7 linked regions of the Homo sapiens genome follow. The protein of the gene in region 1 purifies or fractionates together with the protein of each later gene. This does not show direct contact. Each region holds a gene or a part of one and is shown on either strand. Other genes may lie near its edges. The genes, in order: PRDM14, CTTNBP2, SLMAP, DSC1, CTTNBP2NL, STRIP2 and STRN.

The links.
Region 2: the proteins of PRDM14 (region 1) and CTTNBP2 purify together in Homo sapiens (affinity purification with mass spectrometry; 2 studies listed by BioGRID and IntAct, with this or other methods). This does not show direct contact.
Region 3: the proteins of PRDM14 (region 1) and SLMAP purify together in Homo sapiens (affinity purification with mass spectrometry; 2 studies listed by BioGRID and IntAct, with this or other methods). This does not show direct contact.
Region 4: the proteins of PRDM14 (region 1) and DSC1 purify together in Homo sapiens (affinity purification with mass spectrometry, with the first as the bait; one large-scale study listed by BioGRID). This does not show direct contact.
Region 5: the proteins of PRDM14 (region 1) and CTTNBP2NL purify together in Homo sapiens (affinity purification with mass spectrometry; 2 studies listed by BioGRID and IntAct, with this or other methods). This does not show direct contact.
Region 6: the proteins of PRDM14 (region 1) and STRIP2 purify together in Homo sapiens (affinity purification with mass spectrometry; 2 studies listed by BioGRID and IntAct, with this or other methods). This does not show direct contact.
Region 7: the proteins of PRDM14 (region 1) and STRN purify together in Homo sapiens (affinity purification with mass spectrometry; 2 studies listed by BioGRID and IntAct, with this or other methods). This does not show direct contact.

The regions. Positions count from the first base shown.
Region 1 is NC_000008.11:70,064,753-70,068,252, forward strand, and holds part of PRDM14 (PR domain zinc finger protein 14), read right to left. Parts: coding exon 3,478-3,500; intron 1,754-3,477; coding exon 1,483-1,753; intron 1-1,482. UniProt on the Homo sapiens protein: Transcription factor that has both positive and negative roles on transcription. Required for the maintenance of embryonic stem cell identity and the reacquisition of pluripotency in somatic cells.
Region 2 is NC_000007.14:117,726,942-117,730,441, forward strand, and holds part of CTTNBP2 (cortactin-binding protein 2), read right to left. Parts: intron 3,085-3,500; exon of another isoform or gene 2,799-3,084; intron 2,712-2,798; exon of another isoform or gene 2,490-2,711; intron 1,327-2,489; coding exon 1,148-1,326; intron 1-1,147. UniProt on the Homo sapiens protein: Regulates the dendritic spine distribution of CTTN/cortactin in hippocampal neurons, and thus controls dendritic spinogenesis and dendritic spine maintenance.
Region 3 is NC_000003.12:57,909,809-57,913,308, reverse strand, and holds part of SLMAP (sarcolemmal membrane-associated protein), read right to left. Parts: intron 1,423-3,500; exon of another isoform or gene 1,388-1,422; intron 1,171-1,387; coding exon of another isoform or gene 1,118-1,170; exon of another isoform or gene 929-1,117; coding exon 608-928; intron 152-607; coding exon 34-151; coding exon of another isoform or gene 1-33. UniProt on the Homo sapiens protein: Associates with the striatin-interacting phosphatase and kinase (STRIPAK) core complex, forming the extended (SIKE1:SLMAP)STRIPAK complex.
Region 4 is NC_000018.10:31,131,857-31,135,356, forward strand, and holds part of DSC1 (desmocollin-1 isoform Dsc1a preproprotein), read right to left. Parts: intron 2,929-3,500; coding exon 2,716-2,928; intron 2,275-2,715; coding exon 2,035-2,274; intron 834-2,034; coding exon 712-833; intron 1-711. UniProt on the Homo sapiens protein: A component of desmosome cell-cell junctions which are required for positive regulation of cellular adhesion.
Region 5 is NC_000001.11:112,451,714-112,455,213, forward strand, and holds part of CTTNBP2NL (CTTNBP2 N-terminal-like protein), read left to right. Parts: intron 1-2,735; coding exon 2,736-2,843; intron 2,844-3,500. UniProt on the Homo sapiens protein: Regulates lamellipodial actin dynamics in a CTTN-dependent manner. Associates with core striatin-interacting phosphatase and kinase (STRIPAK) complex to form CTTNBP2NL-STRIPAK complexes.
Region 6 is NC_000007.14:129,454,932-129,458,431, forward strand, and holds part of STRIP2 (striatin-interacting protein 2), read left to right. Parts: intron 1-312; coding exon 313-440; intron 441-1,507; coding exon 1,508-1,711; intron 1,712-1,768; exon of another isoform or gene 1,769-2,081; intron 2,082-2,891; exon of another isoform or gene 2,892-3,151; coding exon of another isoform or gene 3,152-3,283; coding exon 3,284-3,500. UniProt on the Homo sapiens protein: Plays a role in the regulation of cell morphology and cytoskeletal organization. Required in the control of cell shape. Calmodulin-binding scaffolding protein which is the center of the striatin-interacting phosphatase and kinase (STRIPAK) complexes.
Region 7 is NC_000002.12:36,851,537-36,855,036, forward strand, and holds part of STRN (striatin), read right to left. Parts: intron 1-3,500. UniProt on the Homo sapiens protein: Calmodulin-binding scaffolding protein which is the center of the striatin-interacting phosphatase and kinase (STRIPAK) complexes.

The sequences.
Region 1 (3,500 bases):
CTGACCTCGTGATCCGCCCGCCTCACCTCCCAAAGTGCTGGGATTACAGGCGTGGGCCACCACGCCTGGGCCATTTTTTTTTTAAACCTGCTCCTTACACATTTATTACATCATAATAATTTGCCTTCTCTCTCTCTCTTTTTTTTTTTTTGGAGACGGAGTCTTACTCTGTTGCCCAGGCTGGAGTGCAGTGGTGCGGTCTTGGCATATTGCAACCTCTGTCTCCTGGGTTCAAATGATTCTCCTGCCTCAGCCTCCTGAGTAGCTGGAACTACAGGTGTGTGCCACTACGCCCCGCTAATTTTTTGTATTTTTAGTAGAGACGGGTTTTCACCACGTTAGCCAGGATGGTCTTGATCTCCTGACCTGGTGATCTGCCCATTTCGGCATCCCAAAGTGCTGGGATTAGAGGCGTGAGCCACTGTGCCCGACCTGAGATGAGGTTTTACCATGTTGGCCAGGCTAGTCTTGAAGTCCTGACCTCAAGTGATCCGCCCATCTCCGCCTCCAAAAGTGCTGAGATTACAGGTGTGAGCCACAGTATCCGGCCTGCCTTCTCTCTTATTTACAGGAATTTACATTTATCTTGTCCCACCTACTAGATTAGTAGTTCCTAAACTTCAGTGTATATAGAAATCACTTGGAGAGCTTATTTAACATGCAAATTCCAAAGTCTCACCCCTAGAGTGGGCTGGTGGTTCCCTCGCCCCTTGCTACTGGAATGTGGACCAGGGACCAGGACCAGCAGCACTCCCTGCAAGTTGATAAAAATACCAAATCCTGGGCCCCTACCCTGAATGAGAACCAGCATCATGAAGATCCCTGGGTATTCATTCCCACATTAAAGTTTGAGAGTGAGAGTCCAGCTCAGTATTTCTCAAACTTGCCTGAGACCCATAGTAGGCAATGTATTTTATGCTTGACACCCACCATACCCACATATACCCATGTGAAATAGAAATTTCACAAAACAATCCTTACTCTTAAGGGATTCCCATCAATATTTTCTATTCTACTCTATACTTTTTTTTTTTTTTAATGTGGGTCTTGACCACTAAATTGATTTCCCACCCCACTAAGACATGCAACTCTGCAACCCACCATTTGAAAAACACTGCTCTAGTGATTAGACTTCAGCTACATTAGCCTGGGCAGAGATGAATCAGAAACTGGCTCACCTATGGTAGAAGTTACATCCATTTAGTACGTTTTCTTTTACTCTTGGGGTGGAAGGTAGGGAAGAAGAACAAGTCTTTATAAATAGGAGTATATATCTTTATAAATAGGAGTAGCTTCCGCAGCTTTGGGAAATTGAGGATGCTTTCCTTCACCTGGGTAATTCCCCCCTGGTTAGAGACACTCTCGGTTAGTCCTCTGCATTAGCCTTTAGGAGGGAGGAGCTGTGCATGGAGGGTTTGTGGAAAAGAGCCCAGTCCTTCTACTGGGATGCCCTCATTGGGCAAGGCGAGGGTGTGCACTCACCTTCAGAGGGCCCAGATGGCTGCTTCCCCGGCTCTGTGACCTGAAGGCTCACAGGAATATCCAGAAATTTCTCATAGCAGTCTCCATACCACACAAGGAGCTCTTGGTTCTGATGGATCTCTTTGCAGCTCTCATAAAATATATGCCCTTGACACTGCACAGCAACTAGGTTCTGCTCCTTGGGGAAGCGGGCACAGTTGACATAGGACATCCAGTTCCCCGTACCTCCTTTTCCATCTATAAAGTGGCTCAAATGACCATCTTCAAAGATCTAAATGAAATAAGACATGAAGTTTGTATTGTACTTCTTTTTTGGTCTAATCTATAAAATAAATTTTTTAATACTTGTAACCTAAATATCACACTTGAGTCCACCAAATACACTTCTATCATTCTGATTTTTATGTCATTACAAGTAGTTTATAAATTTACTTATGCCAACATAGATTTGTTAGTTTAAGGACACCTCTCTAGGTAATGTCACATATTGGGTTTGTTTGTTTTTTTCAGAGACAGAGTCTCACTCTGTTGCCCAGACTGGAGTGCAGTGGCTCAATCACAGGTCACAGTAGCCTCGAATTCCTGGGCTCAAATGATCCTCCCACCTTAGCCCCCTGAGTAGCTGGAACTAAAGGCATGCACCATCACGCCTGGCAAATTTTTTTAAAAAAATTTTTTGTAGAGACAGGGCCTCACTCTTTCCTAGGCTGGCCTCAAACTCCTGGGTTCAAGTGATCCTCCCACCTTGGCCTCCTAAAGTGCTAGAATTACAGGTGTAAGCCACTGAGCCTGCCTAATGTGACATATTCTAAAAGATTCTTACTTTTATCACTTTCTTGCTTCCCAAATTCCTATAGTGAGCACATGTTAATTTCATAAGCAGAGGTAAGTGAAACAAAAAGGTTTTATTTAATTCCACCACTTAAACACAACTGAATAGTTTTATATTTTACTCCCAGTTAGGTTTCATGCATATTAATGGAGCTATAGATTATTTCTTTCAAGGCCGGGCCTGGTGGCTCACACCTGTAATCCCCGCACTTTGGGAGGCCAAAGCAGGCGGATCATGAGGTCAGGAGTTCGAGACCAGCCTGGCCAACATGGTGAAACCCCTCTCTACTAAAAATACAAAAATTAGCCGGGCATGGTGGCACATGCCTGTAATCCTAGCTACTCGGAAGACTGAGGCAAGAGAATTGCTTGAACCCAGGAGGTGGAGGTCACAGTGAGCTGAGATCACGCCACTGCACTCCAACCTGGGTAACAGACAAAAACTCCGTCTCAAGAAAAAAAAAACAAAAAAAAAAAAACAAAGAAAGATTACTTCTTTCTCTGCTGCTGGCAATTTCGCTGTCTCCAACATTTTGTTATTATAAACAACCCTAGGATTAACATATTCCACATAGCCTCAATTTCAGATTATTTTCCTGTACTATATTCCTAGAAGTAGAAATTCAGGGTCAAGGGACTTTGAACATTTTAAGGTATCTGATACATTCTGACAAATTTTCTCCTGCAGGTAATAAACTGCAGTCCCACTAGCATATCCCTAATATATCATCACTAGATCTTGAAGAGTATCTGGTTATTTTTTTTTTAATCCTTGACTAATTTTATAGGTGAATAATATTGAATTTTAAAACTTGTTTTTATTCTCTTTAGCATAGTTTCAGCACTCTATAATATCTAAAGCATTTAGTTTTGTCTATAAATATAATACAACATATTGATTCTTTAAATGTATATTCCATTGCTAATCTTCCAGACTAAAATGACTTAAGGCACCCACAAAACACAGAATTCATGCAGAGGTGCTATCCTCATGGAGCAAACACTGGCCGTTCCTTCCTTTTACAGGCAACACAAACCACAGATATCTGCCCTGGATGTCCTCTCTCTCTGACCAGGACTCTCCCAAAAGGGCAAAGGCCAAGATTTCCCCGGACTAGTCTCCCGCCCCATTTTCAGCAGCAGACCCACCAGAAACAGATTTACCTCCCACATCACAGAATTGTCTC
Region 2 (3,500 bases), on another chromosome or scaffold:
CTTGGGACCTCCATAATTCTTGACAAAGACTATATTCCATATAGGAGAGGTCAAAAATGATTCCTAAGAATCTTGAGACTCTGGATGTAAAAAAGACTTTAATTTAACTGACATAATAATGAAGAAAGTGGTAATTATATCAATAAGTGTATTTATTTTGTAGCAAAATTCTAAATATATATTTAATATAGTACTTCTTTCCCACCAATTAGCTGTTATAAAAATGGTGGTTTGTCTTACAATAGAGAAAATATACATATACTTTTTAGAGACAGGGTCTTGCTCTAATACTCAGGCTGGAGTTCGGTGGCTTAATCAAAGCTCACTGCAGTCTTGACCTCCTGGGCTCAATTGATCCTCCTGCCTCAGCCTCCCAACTCAATAGCTGGGACTACAGGTACATGCCACTATGCCTGGCTAATTTTTTTTTTTAAATAGAGATGGGGTCTCACTACGTTGCCTGGGCTGACCTTTAACTCCTGGCCTCAAGTGATCCTCCCCTCTCAACTTCCCAATGATGGGATTATAGGCATGAACCACTACATCCAGCTAAGAAGATATTATTTCTATCCCCTGCTTTCCAAAATAGACTTCTGCCCATGGCACCAGAAACTATAGAATCAAATCTGCTTGCTGGTCACAGAACCATTACTAAACTGGATGGTAACAAATTTTTTCTCATTTCAACTTTCTCCTGATTTTCTATTTCATTAACCTTATTGTATATATGTCTGTTCTCATAAGATGCTTCAAAGGAAAACAGTAAGTACTGAACATATGTCTCAATAAAGGGAAAGCTTTTCAATTCATTAACAGAATGCAGGTTTTTTGGAGGGTGTGCATACAATACTTGATGAAACTTCTTATGTGGTACCTCACTCAGGAGACTCTGCATAGCAAGCCAAACATAACTTGGATGAGAATTTTCTAATAGAGGAAAAACCTAGCTCTCAGCAAAAATGCAGCTGCCCTAGGAAGCACACAGTAGGCAAGCTGTGGCCATCCTCTGAAAGAGCAGAGAGCACTGGCACTCCGTGTCAGTGACAGGAGGTGGCACAAGGCAGCCTGGTCAGCATTCTCACCCTCAAACATCTGAATTGGCCACGTCTCTATCATAAGCAGAAAGATAAGGAAAAATGGCACTTACTTCACTGTCACTTGGGCATGCCCAGGAACTACAGGACAAGACAGGAAATATTTTGGTCCAAGAAGTGCTTCAGGTGTGCCCAAGCGGGCCAGGCAGGAGTTAAGCTGACGCCAGACGGACAGAGCCCAGTCGACAATCTTGCACACAGGATCGCAGGGGGAGGGCGCCTGACCTTTGAACTAGAGAGACAGGGAGGTGGAACCCAGGGGCTTGGTTTAGAACATTTTGTTTTTAGAAGCCCAAAATTAAAAATATAAAACTTTAAATCAAAATTGAAAAGTAGCTGAATCTTATTTAACTTTACTTGGGATGGCTGAAGGAGGGATAATAACACATACTATAGTTGTGCAAACGTGTTAGTGTGATAAGCATTTTTCTCCTTTAATTCTCACCATGAGCCTGAGTTAGGCATTTTTACCCCATTTTACATATCAGGAGCCTGAGGCAGGAAGAAAAAATAACTCGCCCAAGGTCCCACAGGTAATAGTGGCAAAGCCAGGGCTAGAGTCTATTTATATTTTTTATTAAGGTATAATTGACAAAAATTATATATATTTGTGGTATATATCATGATGTTTTGATGTATACATTGTGAAATTATTAAATTAAGCTGACTAACATATCCATCCCTTTACATACTTATTTTTATTTAAGATCTACTCTCAGCAATCTGCAAGTATACATTAACTACATAGGGCTTATCTTTAATAGAAAAATAGGATACAGCATCTCGCTGAAATAATAAAGGAGTCATTTATCACATTTAAAAGGAATTCAGTAATCACTATTAAGCTAAAGAACTTCCTCTTCTTCCTCAGGCTTAACATTTCTGAAGCTCTCTGTTTAAGCCTCACTTTCTACCGTCAGCCAGGGCTGAAAGAACAGGCTTAGCTTTGTGGGCAGCTGACAGAGGGACAGGGATCTCCCCAGCTGCCTCATCAAGACCACATGTAGAGGAAGGGAGAAGGAGGGTAGAGCTCTCATTGTAACTCGGTCCCCAGGGAAACGTTACTTTTTCTGGGAGGACTGAATTATTCTCTTAATGACTGTCTAATAAACTGCTTCTAAAGCTCAGACTGTTAGACATCGTAACGGAATCACATTTCACAGTACCCAAAGGCAGAATGTAATCTGTCTTTCCTAAGGACCTGAACAAACAGGAAGGGTGTCCACCTCTCTCCAAAGTGCAGATGTTGTTTATATGAAATTTCTCCTTTTGCAAGTTGGCTGTATTATGGGAAAAGTGGTTATCGGACAGTACATTAAAAACTGGTGTTTCATTAAAAGGTCTATCCAATAAATAGACTTTCTAGTAACCACATGTTTTTATTTCCTTCCCCAGAGATACATTCCTTCAGTGTTAATGGATAATTTTGCATAGAGGTGTGTATGCCTACTATGTATTCTATGCCTATTTGTTATTGCTGCTAAGAAGAAAAAAATCCATGTAAGTTAGTGTACTCATGAAATACAGAGGAAACAAAAGAAAAGGTGTGAAAAGCTAATGAAGAGCAAGTGGTCAGTTCTGGTGCGGTTTGATGGAGTGGAGAAAGCCACCCACCAGGTACTGCAATTGCCTTCCTTTTTTTTTTCTTTTGAATTTTACCAGCTGGAAAAATGAGGAAATTGAGCCAGGCCCTTTATCTTTCAGATCCCTTCCAGACTGGCAGTCTTGAAGTACAGACAGACACAAGCTGCTATGGTAATTCAAAAGAAGAACTGACTAAATACAGCGTGGTCAAGAAAGACAAATAGATGAGGTGGGGACTTCAGCTGGGTCTCTCACAGGATGTCCAGGACATGGTATTGGTGAGGGGAGGTGGGAAGAGTGTCCCAAATATGGAAGAGGGAAGGAACTGTGGAGGAGCGGTCAAAATGGATGCTGATGTTTGCAAATAACAAAAGGGATGAATAAATGACAGGCTTCTACAAGTAAACAGTCTATGTAACTGTTACTAATTCAAGGTGCTGGATCTGATCCCCCACCTAGTATGTCCCCTGAACGAATGACTTCAAGGCCACGTAGTTGTCCCTGAGTTTTCCACATGCCAACCTCCTCCTCCCTAGGCCTGAGATGTGTTGCAAGTGCTGCTCCTTCTGCCCAGACCCCCTGCTTCCCTATTCTCAGCAAACCCTTCTTCCTTGACATAACAAATTAGCATGACCTGCAAATCCTTCAATGTGACCACAGATAGAGAGGCCTCCACCCCAAATTCCTAAAATAAGTACTCTTCCCAACTTCCGCCCGAGTTTCTATAGTGGTACCTTACCTGTTTCTTTCACAGCACATATTAGCCACCTGTTTAATTAGCATGATTTGAGTGTTGTACCCATGAAGTCGGACAGAATCAGA
Region 3 (3,500 bases), on another chromosome or scaffold:
TTTATATCTGAAAAACAGAGAGTTCTTGCATACTTGTGCAATTCTTTTTCTTGCCGTTGCAGTTCTGATGATAGCAAAACATTTTCCCTTTTTAGAGAATGGCATTCGGTTTCCAATGCATTCCATTCCTTTCTCAACTTCTCTAGTTCACCTAAAATAGTCCCAAAACATATTTGTTAATACAGAAATATAACTTCCATAATACTTCAAAGGATAAAGGAAAAGATTTCAGAGGAGAACATACTTTTTGCCCCCTTAAAAGCAAGTAGATTTTACATGGTTAATTATATGATTCCTGTTACTTTGCATGTATACCTCAAGGACTGCTATCAGCTTGTACTTGAACAATAGTATTTTTTTCCACTTCACTTTTATAAGACAAGCAATTTTTAACAATTTTAAAATAAAATATAAAACCGTAAAAAAATATAAATTTAAGTAGAACTTGCAGACCTGAAAATACATTTTTAGCTCCGATTTAAAAACATTGGTTTATACAACTGATAGCTAACAAAGAAAAAAAAAGCCTGCATGTTTCTTTTTTAAACAAGTTAAGAAGTTATCATTGTCAAAAGTTAACAGCTTTATGTAAAATACATTTATTCACCTTGCAACCTTGTTGCTTCTTCTCTCTGCTGGTCCTCACACTGTTGACATCTAAGCTGAAAACTGTTTTGCAGACTTGTGATTTCTTTCTCATATTCAGACGCTGCTTTCCGCCACCGCTCAAGCTCAGCTCTCACCTTCTTAAGCTCTTCTTGTAAAGAAGCAATGTCAGTGTCCCGCTCAGAGGCAACCTTTGCTGCTGCTTGATGAAGGAGCAAAATTTCATCTCGGGCACTAAGCAATTCATCTCTAGTACTTGTGATTTCACTGTCCTTCTCCTCCCGGAGATTCTCAGTATCGATGTGTAACCTCTGCAATTGGGCTGCAAAAGTATATCCATCATTTTCTTGGCCCATTAGAATAAAAGAATAATCCATACAGGATTGTAGCTAATGCATAACCTGGGTTGTCAGAGCTGTTGCTTTTGATTAAAGTGTATAAACAATCCACGTTTGATGCAGAAAGCGTCAAAATACAGATAGCAAAGAGGAAAAAAAAACCAAAGTGATCTTCATCTCCCCAACACACAGAAAATTACTTCTGATATTCCTTCTGGATTTTTTCCTATGCATTTATAAACATGTAAAAACAAACATTAAATAGGGAGTGATCACAATAAATGCAGTGTTCCCTATCCTTCTGTTGATGAAACTCTTTCAACAAAAAAATAGTTATAGTATATATAACTTATTTGCCCAACCCTTTATTTTTGACATTTTAGGCTGTTCAGTGTTTAAACACTATATACAATCCTTTTTTTTTTTTTTTTTTTTTTTTTTAGGGTGAATCCTATGTGTAGAATTGCTTGGTCAAATGGTAAGCAATAAAAGCAATAAACAGTTGACGCCCTTGATTCGTTTTTCTGTTCAAATGTCAATTCTTTAAAGAGGCCTTTTCTGATGACTCATGTGAAAAACAGCTCACTGTCATTCTCTGGCTCTTTACTCTGCTTTATTTTCCTTTGAAGTCCTTATTGGACATCATATTATCTATTAATTTGCTTATTGTTTATCTTTTCTACTGGACTGTACACCTCATGTGTGTAGGGCATTTGTTTTGCTCACAGCTGTCAGGTATTGGGGATACCCCAATATCTAACACAGTAAACAATCAAGAATTATTGGTTGAATTAATGAGTTAATAAAATTAATACTGCCTCATTGAAGGGTTATATAGATTTTTAAAAATACCTGGTTTTGTGCTCATGACCCAAACTGGAAACAATTTGTATAAAATCAAACTTGGCGCAGAACAAGAAAATTAATATTGGTTACCATATTATAAGGAAATTGTAGATTTAAAAAGTTCCAAAGGAAAATAATTAATTACAAGAGGATTTAGGGATGGGAGAAAGGGAGGTTGCTACATAAGTAAACATTAAGATATTAGACTTTCTAAGTTTGTAGGAAGGACTGAGAGGTAACAAGTTTGGAATCTGAAAGGGCACAATGGCCAGAGAAGATGATCATGATTTGTTGATACAGTCGTGAAATACACATGCTGGCACCAGGGGGCACTCAATAATGCCTGGGCAAGACAGGTTTTAAAAAAAAGGTAGCACTATGTCACAGAACCTTTAGGAAAAATTGCCCCTACACAGTCTACGATGAAAATAGAGATCCAAATCAGATTTATGTAAATTAATGGATAATGACATTAAACTACAATAGGAGTTTTAAGAGCTTTCAATTTAAAAACACATATGACATACCCTAGAAATTCTAATCTGACCAAAATAAAATTCTAATTTTAAATAACTCAAATGTTCCACTCAAAAAATAGGACCCCAAAGACTAGTTTTTCTCTGCGATATTTTTGGGCAAGTATCTTGGGCCTCGTACAATGACTCTCCCTTCTCTTCTGAATAGTGATTACTTGTCTATTTAATTTCTTCCCCACCTATCTCTCAAGCTAAAATTTTAAAACAACATTGGCTCCTTCTTTGACAAGAAGGCAAATTAATTTTACTTTAGGAATTTTACAATGGCATGGGAAAGGAAGACCTCTCCTGGGGTATCATATAATTTCCTCATAATATACCAGGAGCTCAAGCTTGAAGTAAACATTCGACAGGCAGGGGTCTTTCTGGAAATTTCTGTAATAACCCTGTAATAGCCCAGACAAAGAAATAGCAAAATGGTGATAAGAAGAACAGCCATTATCAACGAAAATCAGTGCAGAGACTACTATCCTATTCCACGTGATATATAATTTTTCTTGAGGCCAGGTGCAGTGGCTCATGCCTGTAATCTCTGCACTTTGGGAGGCCAAGGTGGGTGGATCACGAGGTCAGGAGTTTGAGACCAGCCTGGCCAATATAGTGAAACCCCATCTCTGCTAAAAATACAAAAATTAGCTGGGCATGGTGGCATGCACCTGTAGTCCCAGCTACTTGGGAGGCTCCAGAATCACTTGAACTCGGGAGACGGAGGTTGTAGTGAGCCAAGATCACCACTGCACTCCAGCCTGGGCAACAGAGCAAGACTATGTCTCAAAAAAACAAGCAAAAAAATATTTTCTTGCAATACAAGTGTGTTCTGAGCATTAGATGGCAATATATCTACACCAGCCATCAATATATACATATACCAGCAAGCTCAAAGTGCTGACGCAGAGTAGCTCAAACAGATTTCCTATCCAAAGGCCCTCTGTAGGAACTCACGACATAACTCAGAAAGTGACAGTCTTACCAACTCCAAATCTTCACCTCTGCTTTTTCCATTCTAAGTGTCTAATACGAGAGTACTGGACAATCTTCCCTTGAATTTTCTTTAAAAAAAAAAAAAAAATAGGCCAGGCGCAGTGGCTCACACCTGTAATCCCAGCACTTTGGGAGGCCAAGATTGGTGGATCACCTGAGGTTGGGAGTTTGAGATCAGCCTGACCAACATGGA
Region 4 (3,500 bases), on another chromosome or scaffold:
AGAGTGATAAAGTGAATTTGAAAAATGGAAACTAACAATTCATTTTCATTTTTTTTCACCATAGGCAAATCACTTGCCTGCTGTGCCTCTCTGTTCCTCATACATAAAATCAGAATAATAGTATCATAGGTGTGATGGGTTGAATTGAGTCCCCTAAAAATTCATATGCCCTAACCCTCAGTAACTCAGAATGTGAACTTATTTGGAAATAGGGTCATTGTAGATGTAATTAGCTAAGATGAGGTTATATGGGATTAGAGTGGGTCCCTAAGCGAATATAATCAGTATCCTTATAAAAAGGGGAAATTTGGACACAGACATGCACACATGGAGAATCGCCATATGAAGATTTGATTTCCACTGCCATAAGCCAGGGAATTGGCAGAAGCTAGGAGAGAGTCCTGGAACAGATCCCTCCCCAGTTCCTTCAGAGGGAGCACGGACCTGCCAACACCTTGATCTCTGATTTCTAGTCTCCAGATCTGTGAAACAATACTTGTCTGTTGTTTAAGTCACTCAGTTTGTTGTGACAGCCCTAGCCCTGTAGAATTGGGAGGTTTAAATGATTTAAAACACTGAGGGCACTTGAAACTCTGCTTAGCATAGTAAGTGCTCAATAAACATTAGTGATATTATCATTGACATTGTTGAGTAATAATCTGTCATCATTTGTTCACCGTACAATTCAAAGGGATGTGAAATCTGATTTACCGTTACTTCTTCTCCAGGTCCTTCAGTATTTGATACAATTAAATTTTGCTGGGCTATGTCTTCTGGAAAACATTTCTTGACTGTTCTCTTAGCAGTGACACAGAAACATGTAAACAGAATACCTAAAAAGCAAAAAAGATCAAAGTAAAACACAGACATTAAATCATTTGATTACATGATTTTTTAAAGTCTTCTTGCATATGTCTCAAAAAATTCATTCCACAAATTGAGCTCTTCAGGTCACAAGATTTAAAAACAGAATATTTTAAAAATGTATTTATACTATTTGTAGCTTAGAGAGATTAATAATAGCTCTCTTCCCAGGTCCAGAATTAACTTATATGTGTCTTTTATTTCTTCTACATTGAAATGGTAACTTCATCTAACTGATATTTAAGATAGCATCATTAGTAGTTAAAATCATACAGAACACACTTAAAGGGCTTAAAATAACAAGACTAAGAACATTAGGCATAAATACAAACAAGAAAGGCAATTACATAAAATTGGTGTCTGGTTTCAAAAATGTACATCAACTAATAAAGTGCTAAGAGGAATATCCAATTTAATCTGAAACTCAAATCAATGAATTAGGATACAGTAAAGATTATAGGAAAAGTTTGTAAATGCAAATGGGTTCTTTGGGGTCAGAGGGAGAGAGAAAGAAAAAGAAAAGGAAAAGAAGAGAGAAACAGAAAGAAAGAAAGAGAAAAAGGCAGTCTTAATTAAGCGTGGGCAATATTTCTATTACTTTTGTACCTCCAAATAACAGTTTGCACAATGCAAAATCTTAGCATCCTTTGCCTGTATTGCTTTTCCTCAGTGGCTCATATGACCATTTTTCACTCACGGAAGTCTTACGATGATGCTAAATCACTTCATTAATAATATGGAACAGAAATATCTGAGTAAATTTTGGAATAGCTCTGTTTTCACAAATTCTTTTTGTATGTATGTATTCCCTACATAAACATGGCTGGTTGAAAGACTATATTATTTTACATGGAGGGAATCTTAATAGTTTTACCCAGCCTCTTCATTTTACACATGGAAAAATGAGTTCAAAAAGGAGGAAATAATTTACCCAATGTCTCACAGATAATTATTGAAGAACTAAGGCTACCACCTCTGAAACTGACTTTAAATTTAATCTGCTGTTACTGATACATTTATCACTCAGAGCCCCAAGACATAAAATAGATACAATATTTTTAAAAGAACACACTTCCCAAAGGCTATTAATATAAAAAACTTCCATGTTTTAAAAATACTAGATAAAATTTTAGCTAACACATTCTAGATAATGATACTTAATATACTTACATAATAACAATACAGAACCCAACACCATAGCAAGAATAGCCCATCTTCCAAGTATTACATTTGGTCTAACGTCTCTTGTACTTTTATCCTTCATTCTACACTCAGATGGAGTTGAACAGTCACATACTCTCACTGTTAACATATGTGTTGCAACTAAACCATGCCTGTCTTTTATTTGAATAGGCACAGAATAATAGTTATAATCAAGATTTTGCCGTTGACGAAGAATGGCAGTTTTACCTAGGGAAAAAAAAGACAGAATATATATGGATTGGCTGTTTAGATGGCAGTATTATTCCTACTCAATATTCTCAGTGGAAGGGAATCAATTTAGAATAAAAACTCGAATTTTTCTTTTTTTTTTTGAATTTGTGATTTCCCAGAAGAGCCAGAAAAGTAATTGATGTTGCTTTATGCTGATATTAAACTAATCTGTACTTAACATGTTGCTCAAATGTTAATTAAAAAGGGACTTATATGTTTTCTTAAAAGATATTCAGAACAAGAGTCTAAGCTCATCACAATGGCACTAATTTTTTTTAAAGATTAGGTATTGTTGTTTTTAGGGTTAATAAAATAATTTCCTAAAATAAATGTGTATTTATTATGATAAACTAAGGTGAAAGAACCATCACCAATCTGAAGTCCGTATTGACTATAAAATTTAGCATGATTACATACCATCCTTTTCTTCTATGTTCCAGTTTTTACTGGCAGAATTATCCAGAAAGAATTGAAAAGGTGGTCCATTTTCAGGTCCATCTGGATCTACAGGTTTCAGAACAGCAAAATCCTCATTATTCTGACAAATGGTCACTTCTTTGTCAATTTGAGGTGCGTGATCGTTGTAATCATCCAAATGAACTACTAATGTTCCAGTGCAAGATCGGCCAACTAAGATTAATTAAAAATAGGTTATTTCTTCACATGAAAATGCATTTATTTTCAACAATTTATAAAATACACAGTTGACATCTGCTTTCTACTAGCTGTCTGAGCTTGAGTTCGCATACATGCTTCCCAGATTTCAGACACCAAGACTACAAAATAGGGACATGTCACTTTTCTTTGAAGACTAGGGCTGGATCAGATAATTTCTTCAGATGCTTTTCAAAACTAAAAGGTATGAGATTATGAGGAAGGTCACTACAGAATGACCTGTTGAAAATAAAACAGATGTCTTACATCCTTCTTTATGAAGCGCATATATTCATCCTTAGAATACAAACACTTTACATTTGGTTGTCAGTCACTTTCTCAGCTTCTCCATTGCATCATATACTTTTTTCCCAAACCTTGAAAACTTCTCTAGAAATGCACTAAGTGTTCCCCTTCCTGTCTGCTTTGTAGCATTCGGTTGCCACTCCTAGGAATACTTTTCTCCTCTTCTTTGCCAGATAGCACACTATTATCTTCAAGAATCTACTTAAATGTCACGTCCTCATGAAACTCGTGACTTCCACAGA
Region 5 (3,500 bases), on another chromosome or scaffold:
GAGCTGAGATCACACCACTGTAATCCAGCTTGGGTGACAGAGCAAGACTGTCTCAAAAAAAAAAAAAAAAACACAAAACAAACAAACAAAAAAACAGGCTTTGAGCCAGTTCTCCTGTTTTCTATTCTACATTTCACCTCTCCTCTGCAGTACCTGCCACCTCCAGGTTCCATCTCTTTGGGGCTCTGCAAGGCAAAACAGCTTCCCTCCTTCAAAGTAAAGTAGTTACCACAACTCCAGCCTCTTTTCTTCTTCAAAATATTATTAAAATTTTTTCTCTGCTAGAGGCTCTCTCCTTTGTGGGGTTTTAGTCTTTTTATTCCATTTCTGTAATTTTTGAGGACTCCCAAAAGGGAGAAGATAAGACTTACCACTTTTGGCCAAAAGCATGTCTTTCTATTAAATTGAAAAATTAGATTAAAAAAAGGAAATGTGCCAAATTTTTTTTCTTTCATTTATTTTGAGAGACAGGGTCTCGCTGTGTTGCCTGGGCGGGAGTACAGTGGCTATTAACAGGTGCGATCATAGCACCCTATAGCCTGGAACTCTTGGGCTCCAGTGATCCACCTCAGCCTCCCTAGTATCTGGGACTACAAGCATACACCACAGCACCAGTCTCTTCTTTTTTTTTTTTTTTTTTTTTTTTTTTAGACAGAGTTTCACTCTTGTTGCTCAGGCTGGAGTGCAATGGCACAATCTTGGCTCACCACAACCTCTGCCTACTGGGTTCAAGCGATTCTCCTGCCTCAGCCTCCCGAGTAGCTGGGATTACAGGCATGTGCCACCATGCCTGGCTAATTTTGTATTTTTAGTAGAGACAGGGTTTCTCCATGTTGGTCAGGCTGGTCTCGAACTCCCAACCTCAGGTGATCCACCTGCTTTGGCCTCCCAAAGTGCTGAGATTACAGGCATGAGCCACCACTCCTGGCCTCTTTTTTTTTTTTTGAGACAAAGTCTCACTCCGTTGCCTGGGCTGGAGTGCAACGGCATAATCATGGCTCACTGCAACCTCGACCTCCCTGGGCTGAGGTGATCCTTCCACCTCAGCCTCCTGAGTAGCTGGGACTACATGCACACCTCACCATGCCTGGCTAATTTTTGTACTTTTTTGTAGAAATGGGGTTTTGGGTTGGGCACAGTGGGTCACACCTGTAATCCCATCACTTTGGGAAGCTGAGGCAGAAGGACCACTTGAGTCCAGGTGTTTGAGACCAGCCTGGGCAACATGGCGACACCCCATTTCTACAAAAAATCAGCAGGCCATAGTGGTGTATGCCTGTAGTCTCAGCTGCTCAGGAGGCTGAGGTGGGAGGATCACTTGAGCCTAGGAGGCAAAGATTGCAGTGAGCCGAGATGATGCCACTGCATTTCAGCTTGGGTGAGAGTAAGACCCTGTCTCCTCAAAAGGAAGGAAGGGGGTGGGGGAGGGAGAGGGAGAGGGAGAAATAAATGGCTGGTCTCAAACTCCTGTGCTCAAGCAATCCTCCTGCCTCTGCCTCCCAAAAGTGCTGGGATTACAGGCATGAGCTCATTTTTATTTTTATAGACAGGTTTCATGTCCCAGAAAATTTACTCTCTTCACTCATAAAAATTTTTAGTGAGAAGACTAAGAAATGGCCTTTGGGACAAGAGTGCTCTACCCTGGAGGTCTGGGCCAAGGCACTTCTGAAGCATGAGCAGAAGCTACTAAGCAATCAGAATATTTGCAGTTGTAGATGGGATTATGTGAAAAATGTCTCTTTAAATTTGTATTCTTGGCCATGTGTGATGGCTCACACCTGTAATCCCAGCATTTTGGGAGGCTGAGGCGGGTGGATCACTTGAGCCCAGGAGTTCCAGACCAGCCTGGGCAAGATGGCAAAACCCCATCTCTACAAAAAATACTAAAATCAGCTGGGCGTGGTGGCGCACACCTGTAGTCCCAGCTACTTGGGAGGCTGAGAGGTGGGAGAATCTCTTGAGCTCGGGAGGCCAAGGCAGCAGTGAGCCATGATTGCACTACTACAGTCCAGCCTGGGTGACAAAGCAAGACCCTGTCTCGAAAAATAAATATATTTGTCTTCTCCTTAAAATTGGGCTTAATCCTTTGGCACCAGGGTAAGTGAAATAGGGGTAGGCAAGTTAAATAAAAGGGCGTATGAAAAATCTCCATTTAAGGTCTCTATATTTGAGCCTTTTTACATGCAGTAGGAAGTCAAGAGAGTCTATCCACCTCTTATCTAACTATATAAAAATGTATATTATTAGTTAAACAAGGCACACTTAGAATGTCACCTATTTGAAATGTTGAATTTCAGGCTCCTTCTTTGGTGCCTCTGGTGATTTGAGAATTGAGAAGAAAATCTCAGCTTTCAGGTTTCTGTGGTCCTGTCTTGCTCCATCACCTACACCTGGCCCCTAGTAACACCAAACTGCCTGCAGTTTCTTGGAATTTCTGTTAATTCTCGACACCTCCTCAACCCCTCTAGCTAATTAGTTGCTCTCTTCTCTCTGTTTGCATATCATTCTCTACATACTTCAAGTAAAGTAAGTATCTTACTGTTTAACACAGAGCTTTCATGTCTTTCACTGTAAGGCAGTGTGCTCCTTGATAGCCCTTGCTGGGTTTCATTTATTCGTTTGTTTGTTTGATCTCTGGAACTATCTAAGGTGCCTGATTTGGCACTTATTATTGGTTGTATTAATAAATGTGACTCCTTGATATTTGAAAATGAAATTTAAAAAATTCTTTAAAGGTGATCCTAGACCTTGAGGAAGAAAGGCAGCGGCATGCACAGGATACGGCTGAAGGAGATGATGTCACCTACATGCTAGAGAAGGAAAGAGAGAGGCTGACTCAACAGGTAATTAAGGTAGAGGGATTCACAGTAGCATTTGCCTGGAACAGCATTTCCCAAAGATTATTCTGCAGGATGCCAACTGGTATTGTTCAGAAAAGGGGCTTTGTGGTCAAATAAGTTTAGGAACTACTGGATTAAGCAAAGTTAAACAGGTTTCTAACTTTGTTAGGATCTTTAGTATGCAGAAGCACATTGTGAGTCTTCAAGAACAAGATAGGGTATTCTGTGTTTAGCAAATCCATGGTTTTATAAAATCTTTTATTGGCATAGATCCCTCACTGTGGGATTATTATTGTTCCGTAGAACACTCTTTGGGGAATGGTAACTTAGCGCTTGTAGCTCTCAAACTTTTGACTTAGAACCCCCAGTAAGAAGTGACATTTTATGTCACAACCCAGTATATGTAGACATACACAGTTACGCCTGAAACAAAAATCTCATGAAATCATATATAACCCCTACTGCTACAGTACACATTGATGTTTTCTGTTTATATATTTTTTTAAAATTCTAGTCGTGGCTCAGTTAGTTTCCCCATCCATTAATGGATCTCAGAGTTTGAAAAACACTGAGTTTCTTCAACCCTTTCCCTCTCACGCAGAGTCTCTGCCTCAAATAGGGTTGGGAAGACAATTAAAACAGGCTATATTTGTGTAAAAA
Region 6 (3,500 bases), on another chromosome or scaffold:
GTGGAAAAGTGAATGACATTGAGTCCTTTAGCCAGAAAGCAATGTCTTCATTATTGTTACTTCTAGTTTGGCATCCAACCCCAAAGCGTCACCCTAAGCTCTGGGGCCTATGCCATTTTAATTCCATGGCGTCCCTTCCTGCCCTTGAGGGGCTTCCTTCTGGGGGCTAAGCCTCCTTCTCAGGACCAAGTACTCTGGTATTCTTCAGGGGAGGTGAGTGCCTTCCTGTGTGTGTCCAGAATCAGGGTTACATGAAAAAGGTTTTAGCTGCCTCATCCTCACTTTCTCACTCCCCTCTCTCCTCACCCCTAGGCTTCTCCATGCATAATGAGGAGCCTTTTGCCCTTTTACTCTTCTCCATGGTTACCAAGTTCTGCAGTGGCCTGGCTCCTCACTTCCCCATAAAGAAGGTCCTGCTCCTGCTCTGGAAGGTGGTCATGGTGAGTAATTCTCCCCACTCCCACATTATCAGATCAGCAATGCCCTATGCCACCTCAGTTTCTTCTAGTCTCATTCCAGGAGGCTGGATCCAGGGAGCAGAACAGGCAGCCCTTAGCCAACTGCTAATATGGAGGGGCAACAAGGCTGTCCTAGAGACATCAGATGTTCTATGTTAGAATGGGTTTCATGTTTCTATTGGATGGATGGGAGATGCCACTCCATAAATTGGGGATGTCAGTGGTACCTTCTCTTATTAAAGCCAATGTTTGATGGAGAGAACACTGGTTGAAAGTTGGTAGATCTGGGCTTTGCTGATACTGAGAAACTTTGGGCAACTCTCTGTGCCTCAATTTCTCTAGCTGTAAAAGGTTGGGGTGAGTGCCTGCCCTCCCTCCAGATAAACAGAGGTTTTGTATTTTTTTTTTAATAAAAATAATTTTTTCTTACAGACAGGCCTCCCTGTGTTGCCTGGGCTGGTCTTGAACTCCTGGTCTCAAGCAATCCTTTCACCTTGGCTTCCCAAAATGTTGGGATTACAGGCATGAGCCATTGTGCCTGGCCAGGATTTGCTTTTTAAAAAATAATGAAGTTCTTATAAATATGTGGTTACATTTCTGTTACTAGTTATTCAACCTGATCCTTCATTTTTGGCTCCCATCTCACAAGGCAGGCCTAATAGGGGGAACTGCCTCTTGACTGCAGAGGAAATTGAGTGACTCTGGGGGTTTATAGCACCTGGATGGTGTTCCTTAAAAAAGTCGATAGTTTCTTTTTTTTCTTTTTTTTTTTTTTTGAGGAGGCCCGCAGGAATTCCTTTCCTAAATTCTGTGATATTTCCCATACTGGGGCAGTAAATAATGCCTTATCCTGACCCCTGAGCTCCTCAGTTGCCGTGGGGATGGTAATCATATTTGCCTCTTTATGTTTTACTACCTCCTTATTAAGGAAAAGGTCTGAAGGGACTGGAGGTTGTGGCCCTTTCTTTTCATCCATGTTTCCCTGACCTTGGCTCTCTCTTACTTCCCTTCCTTCCTCTCTCTCTGCCCCTTTCCTGTTTCTTCCTTAGTTTACCCTCGGTGGATTTGAGCATCTGCAGACTCTCAAAGTACAGAAGCGGGCAGAATTGGGCCTGCCTCCACTGGCTGAAGACAGTATCCAGGTGGTGAAGAGCATGCGTGCTGCCTCCCCGCCCTCTTACACTCTTGACCTGGGAGAGTCTCAGCTGGCACCCCCACCCTCCAAGCTGCGAGGCCGCCGTGGCTCTCGAAGGGTATGGACTGAAGCAGACAATGGTATTGGGACACCGACTGGCCAAAAATCAAGATTCTAAGTTACTCTGGGTGTGGTAGGAAAAAGCAGTAAATGACCCGGCTCATCCTGCCCAGGTTGGCCCTATGACCAACCTGAAATCTTAGGGTCTCTAGTTTGGCCTCTGTCCCCCAGCCCTGACAGCCCCCTGCGCTGTTGTGATGTGACACTGTGATATCATGTCATATATAGCCATGTCTTGCTACAGAATCATTGGCCTGGACCTCAGTGCCTGGAGTTCCTTACATTCTGAATAACAATTAAGGGTATAATCCTGGGGATAGGGACCCAGGATACCGGAACAGGTCTCCAAGCAAATCCATTTTTCTGGGGTAAGGCATTTTACTATTTTGAAGCACCAGGAAGTTTTACTGTCAGCCAGCCACACTCTTAACTGGCCCTGGAACCAAAGGCTTACATTTAAGAGATGACTGGGTAGGGGTCTATGTATATAACCATGTGACACTAAACGACAGGGATACAATCTGAAAAATGTGTCATTATGCAATTTTGTCACTGAGCAAACATCATAGAGTGTACTTACACAAACCCAGATGGTATAGCCTACTGCACACCTAGGCATATAGCCTATTGTTCCTAGACTACAAACCTGTACAGCAGGTTACTATACCGAACACCATATGCAATTGTAACCCAATGGTGTTTGTGTATCTCAACCTAGAAAAGGCCAATAAAAATACAGTATTATAATCTTATGGGTCCACAATTACATATGCAGTCCATTGTTGACTGAAGCATCGTTGTGCAGCACATGACTATAGTCTGCTGTCCTGAAAAGGTCAGAATGAAAAGTTATACTGAGATCTGACTATGTTCTTACAAACTCCCCTGCCTGACCCACTTCAGTTTATCAACAGGGCTAGATAGTAGTGCTCAGTAATCCAGTCTCCATTATCTGCAATAAAATTTTTTAACTTTATTTTTGTTTTATAAAGTAATGCTTACTCATTGTAGAAAATTTGGAACAAATATAAAAATGTGATGAAGGGAGAAAAGAAAAATCACCCACAATCTTAACAACCAGAGACAGTCACTGTTAACTTTTTGGCCTATTTCTGTCCAATCTTTTTTTCTTTGTCACAAGATTTAAAATTCCAAACTTGCTTCCCTCTGCCTAGCAGCAAGCTTCTGTCCTCCTCTTCCTCAGTCAGCCAGCTGGTGTATGCTCACAGAAGGCAAACTAATTGAATGTTCACCTAAGCAGAGCATAATTAGGAAGGAAAGTGCTGGCAAAAAAAGGCATCACTGCTTTCTGAAAGCTAAGTAATTGTGACTTTGGGATTATCTATGCTATGTTCCCTGGCTAATGGCAGGGTTACCTGAGAACTTCTTGTCCTGTTATTGGGCCGGGTGGGGACAGTAGGTTAAGGTGGGGAATTGGATGTTTTCGCAAGGGCTGTGTTCAGATTCCATGTTCCCTGAAATGTGGAGGCCTGTGGATATGGGGTGGCCTCAGACAAGGATGCCCAGAGTGAGATCTCTGCATGCCTACCCTCCCTTCTTTCCCCTCCAGCAACTCCTCACTAAGCAGGACAGCCTGGACATCTACAATGAAAGGGATCTCTTCAAGACTGAGGAGCCCGCCACAGAGGAGGAAGAGGAGTCTGCTGGTGATGGAGAACGAACCTTGGATGGAGAGCTAGACCTGCTAGAGCAGGACCCTCTGGTGCCACCTCCACCCTCACAGGCACCCCTCTCTGCTGAGCGGGTGGCTTTTCCCAAGGGCCTGC
Region 7 (3,500 bases), on another chromosome or scaffold:
TGTCTTTAGTTCATTTATTCTGTGACTGTTTTCAAAATTTCAATGTTAGGAAAGAGAATTGCCTGATAAATCTGGAAATATTTATAAATTACAATTTCCTGCTATATGTGGGTGCCATCTATGGCTTAGTCTAGAGCCACTAACGCTGTTCATTCTACAATGTTCTGTGAGATTTTGCTACTTTAAGTAAGTTCTATCATCACTTACATGGAGATAATTCTCAAATTTAAATCTCAGCTCTTTTTGCATACAAAGTTCTGTATCACATCATTATCATCTAAAGATATATATGACAAAGAGGGCTTCTTAATCCTTAAATCCCTTTATCACTCTTCCTCATCATAATAGAAATGGTCATTTGACAGAACTAGGTTTGGAATCCTAAAAGTCAGCATCCTAACTGTATTTTTTGTGTTAGTAAGTTCCAAAGAAACTTCAATTATACACACAATGAGACAGGCAAGCACATATCATTAAGCCTATATTACAGTGAACACATCAAGGTTCAGAAAAAGTTGTGACTCCTCCACAATCAGGTGACAAAATCAGTACCTATTCTAACTTCTGACTCTCTCCCAACCTGATGGTTCATGCAGATCACACAACTGTCAAAATTGGTTCCTAAATGATCACACATTCTTCCTGAAAGGCTTTTATTAAAAAGAAATCAGTAATTTAAAACCTCAGTGATTTCTGTTAAGCTTTTTTTAAGAGAAAAGAAAAACTGACATAAAGAAAACACTAATTGAAGGTATGTCAAAGTTTTAAAAATTAAATTATGGTCCAGGGAGAGGAAGGGGTGTCCTTGTAAAATATATTACTGGAACAACTCTCAAAATTTGAATATAAATAGTAATTCAGATAATAGTATTGTGTCAATGTTAAGTTTCCGGATTTTGATCATTGTAATACACTACATCAGAGAATGCCCTTGATCTTAGAATTACACGCTAAAGGATCTAGGGGAATAGGAGCATGACGTCTCTCATATGGTTCAGAATTAAAAATTATACACATATATAGAGTGAAAAAGCAAATGTGACAAAATGTTAAAAACTGCTAAATATGTGTGAAGGGTAGCCAGAAGTTCTCGTACTATTTTTGTACCTTTTCTGCAAGTTTAAAATTATTTCAAAATAGAGTTTAAAAAATTTTTTGAACCCTAGAATAGGTATTACAAGTTTATATTCACATAATAGAAAATACAGCTAAAAATAGTCTAATCTTACAGGATTTTCATGTGGCTCCTAGAAATATAACATCTTAAAAACTGAAGACAGTCTTTTCCCAATGCTAGTGGCAGGTAATTACCCAGCCTGTTATTTAAATATAAAATGTGGCTGGGCACGGTAGCTCACACCTGTAATCGCAGCACTTTAGGAGGCCGAGGCAGGCGGATCACTTGAGGTCAGGAGTTCGAGACCAGCCTGGCCAACATGGTGAAACTCTGTCTCTACGCAAAATACAAAAATGAACCAGATATGGTGGCACACGCCTGTGGTCCCAGCTACTTGGGAGGCTGAGGCAGGAGAATCGCTTGAGCCCAGGAGGTGGAGGTTGCAGTAAGCTGAGATCGCACCACTGCACTCCAGCCTGGGCAACAGAGCGAGACTCTGTCTCAAAAAAAAATAAATATAAAACAAAAACTCACTTGACCATGTGGAGTAAGTTCTTAGTCAGTTACACCTGGTTTAGATCCTAAACAAAGAGATGTTTATTTATAAAATTCAGACTACGCATTATTTCCTCCACAGATAATACTCCATTGAGCAACACCCGTGGTAAAGTCCAGCAAGAGAATAACAGTAACAACAAAAAAAGAAATACTTTAAGTGAAATATCCCATATATTCTGAGAGAGACGTTTCAGAGAATAGCCTCAATTGCTTTGAGAGCTAGAAAATAAATATGATTGAAATCAAATCATGGAAACAGGCAAAAGAAAGTTCTTATTTGGTAACACTTTTAAGGAAGCTTCTCCACTTGATGATAAATCAGAGAAGTCGGCAGAATGCAAAGAACACTACTCATACCTAGCTTGTGACGTATCTGCTTCAACTACCTTTGACTTTACCACAGTCAAATCGCCATTGACATCAATGAGAAGAAGGGTAATTTATTCCTATTCTAACAAACATCCTTCATCACTTTAAACTCTATATAAAACTCACTTTCTCCTTGAAGCTTGTTTGGTCCTTTCATTTTTTTAAAAAAATATGCTAAATTCCAAAACAGAACAACACAATCAATTATAAATAACAAGGGGTAGTTCACAGTAAAACATAATAAGAGACTAATTTAAGTTTTCTTTATACAACTTTAAAAGTAAAAAACATAATTTAGAAAATGTCAGGACATATTACAACTCAAAATAATGATCATTTATTCCAGTAATGTTGCCTTTGTTAAAAACATTCTTGGAAGTTTTCTCAAAATGTTTCCAGTGTCAAGTAAAAAGTCCTATTAATTTAGAGTCACATCTCTTGGGGGAAAATGTGGATTCACTCGCCTAGTTCTCTTTATCCATCTTATCTACCAGACTTGACATCTTATTAACCTGCAGTCATTAAAAAGCACTATTTCCACTCAGGATGTTCACAAATTGGCCATATAATCTCTGAAGGTAATTACAAAAATGTTCTCATCCTTTCTAATTTCATATTAGTTTTTTATTTTGCTACTGTAGCTTTGAGTCATATATTTAAACATGATTTTAAATTTATTGAGAGTCTAAAACCTGTAATTTCTTGCTGAAAAAAATTCTCCTTTTCCAATTCTATCACCTGAGTTTAATTTATTTTCCTGTCTCTCTCGTTTACATCCAAGTAGCTCAAAGTTCTATTCATGCTTACTTCCCCAAACAAGTCTCAGCATATCAGAAGAAAACAATGAACAACAGGTTAGGAAGGGAAAATGATGAAAACCACAAAGGAATAAAGAAACTTTTTGAGAGAGAGAGAGACAGAGAGTGAGAACACCACAAGAACATATGTAAACATATGCATGTACATGTTCACACATGCATGTGCACACACACAACATATCATCACTTTTAAAGCTAGTTCTCAGATTAAAACAAGAGTATATGTATGTCGTATTCTTCATCAACTGCAACCTAAACTGTGATTGTCTAGATTATGGCTAACGACAGAAAGCAATGGTTAAGAAAGCCAAAAACCAAAAAAGAGTCTGTAATATCTTCTTCATAACCTGAAAAAGCACTTATTTCCTGACTTCCTGCATCCAATAAGAAGCTTCAGGTTTGGAATTCTGAGTGCCACAACATGATCTGTATTGAGCTGTACCAAATCATACTATTAATATAAAATTAAGTTGATTTAAAATATGAAATTACGAGAAATGAAAAATAGAATTTCCTATTCAGAATAAATATGGCTTTCTTCAAATAGAATTGAAAATTAATCATTTAGTATAAAATAAAACTTGACCCATAACAGCTCAAATGCTATTTCAAACAGTATAGTTATAAATGTACATAAA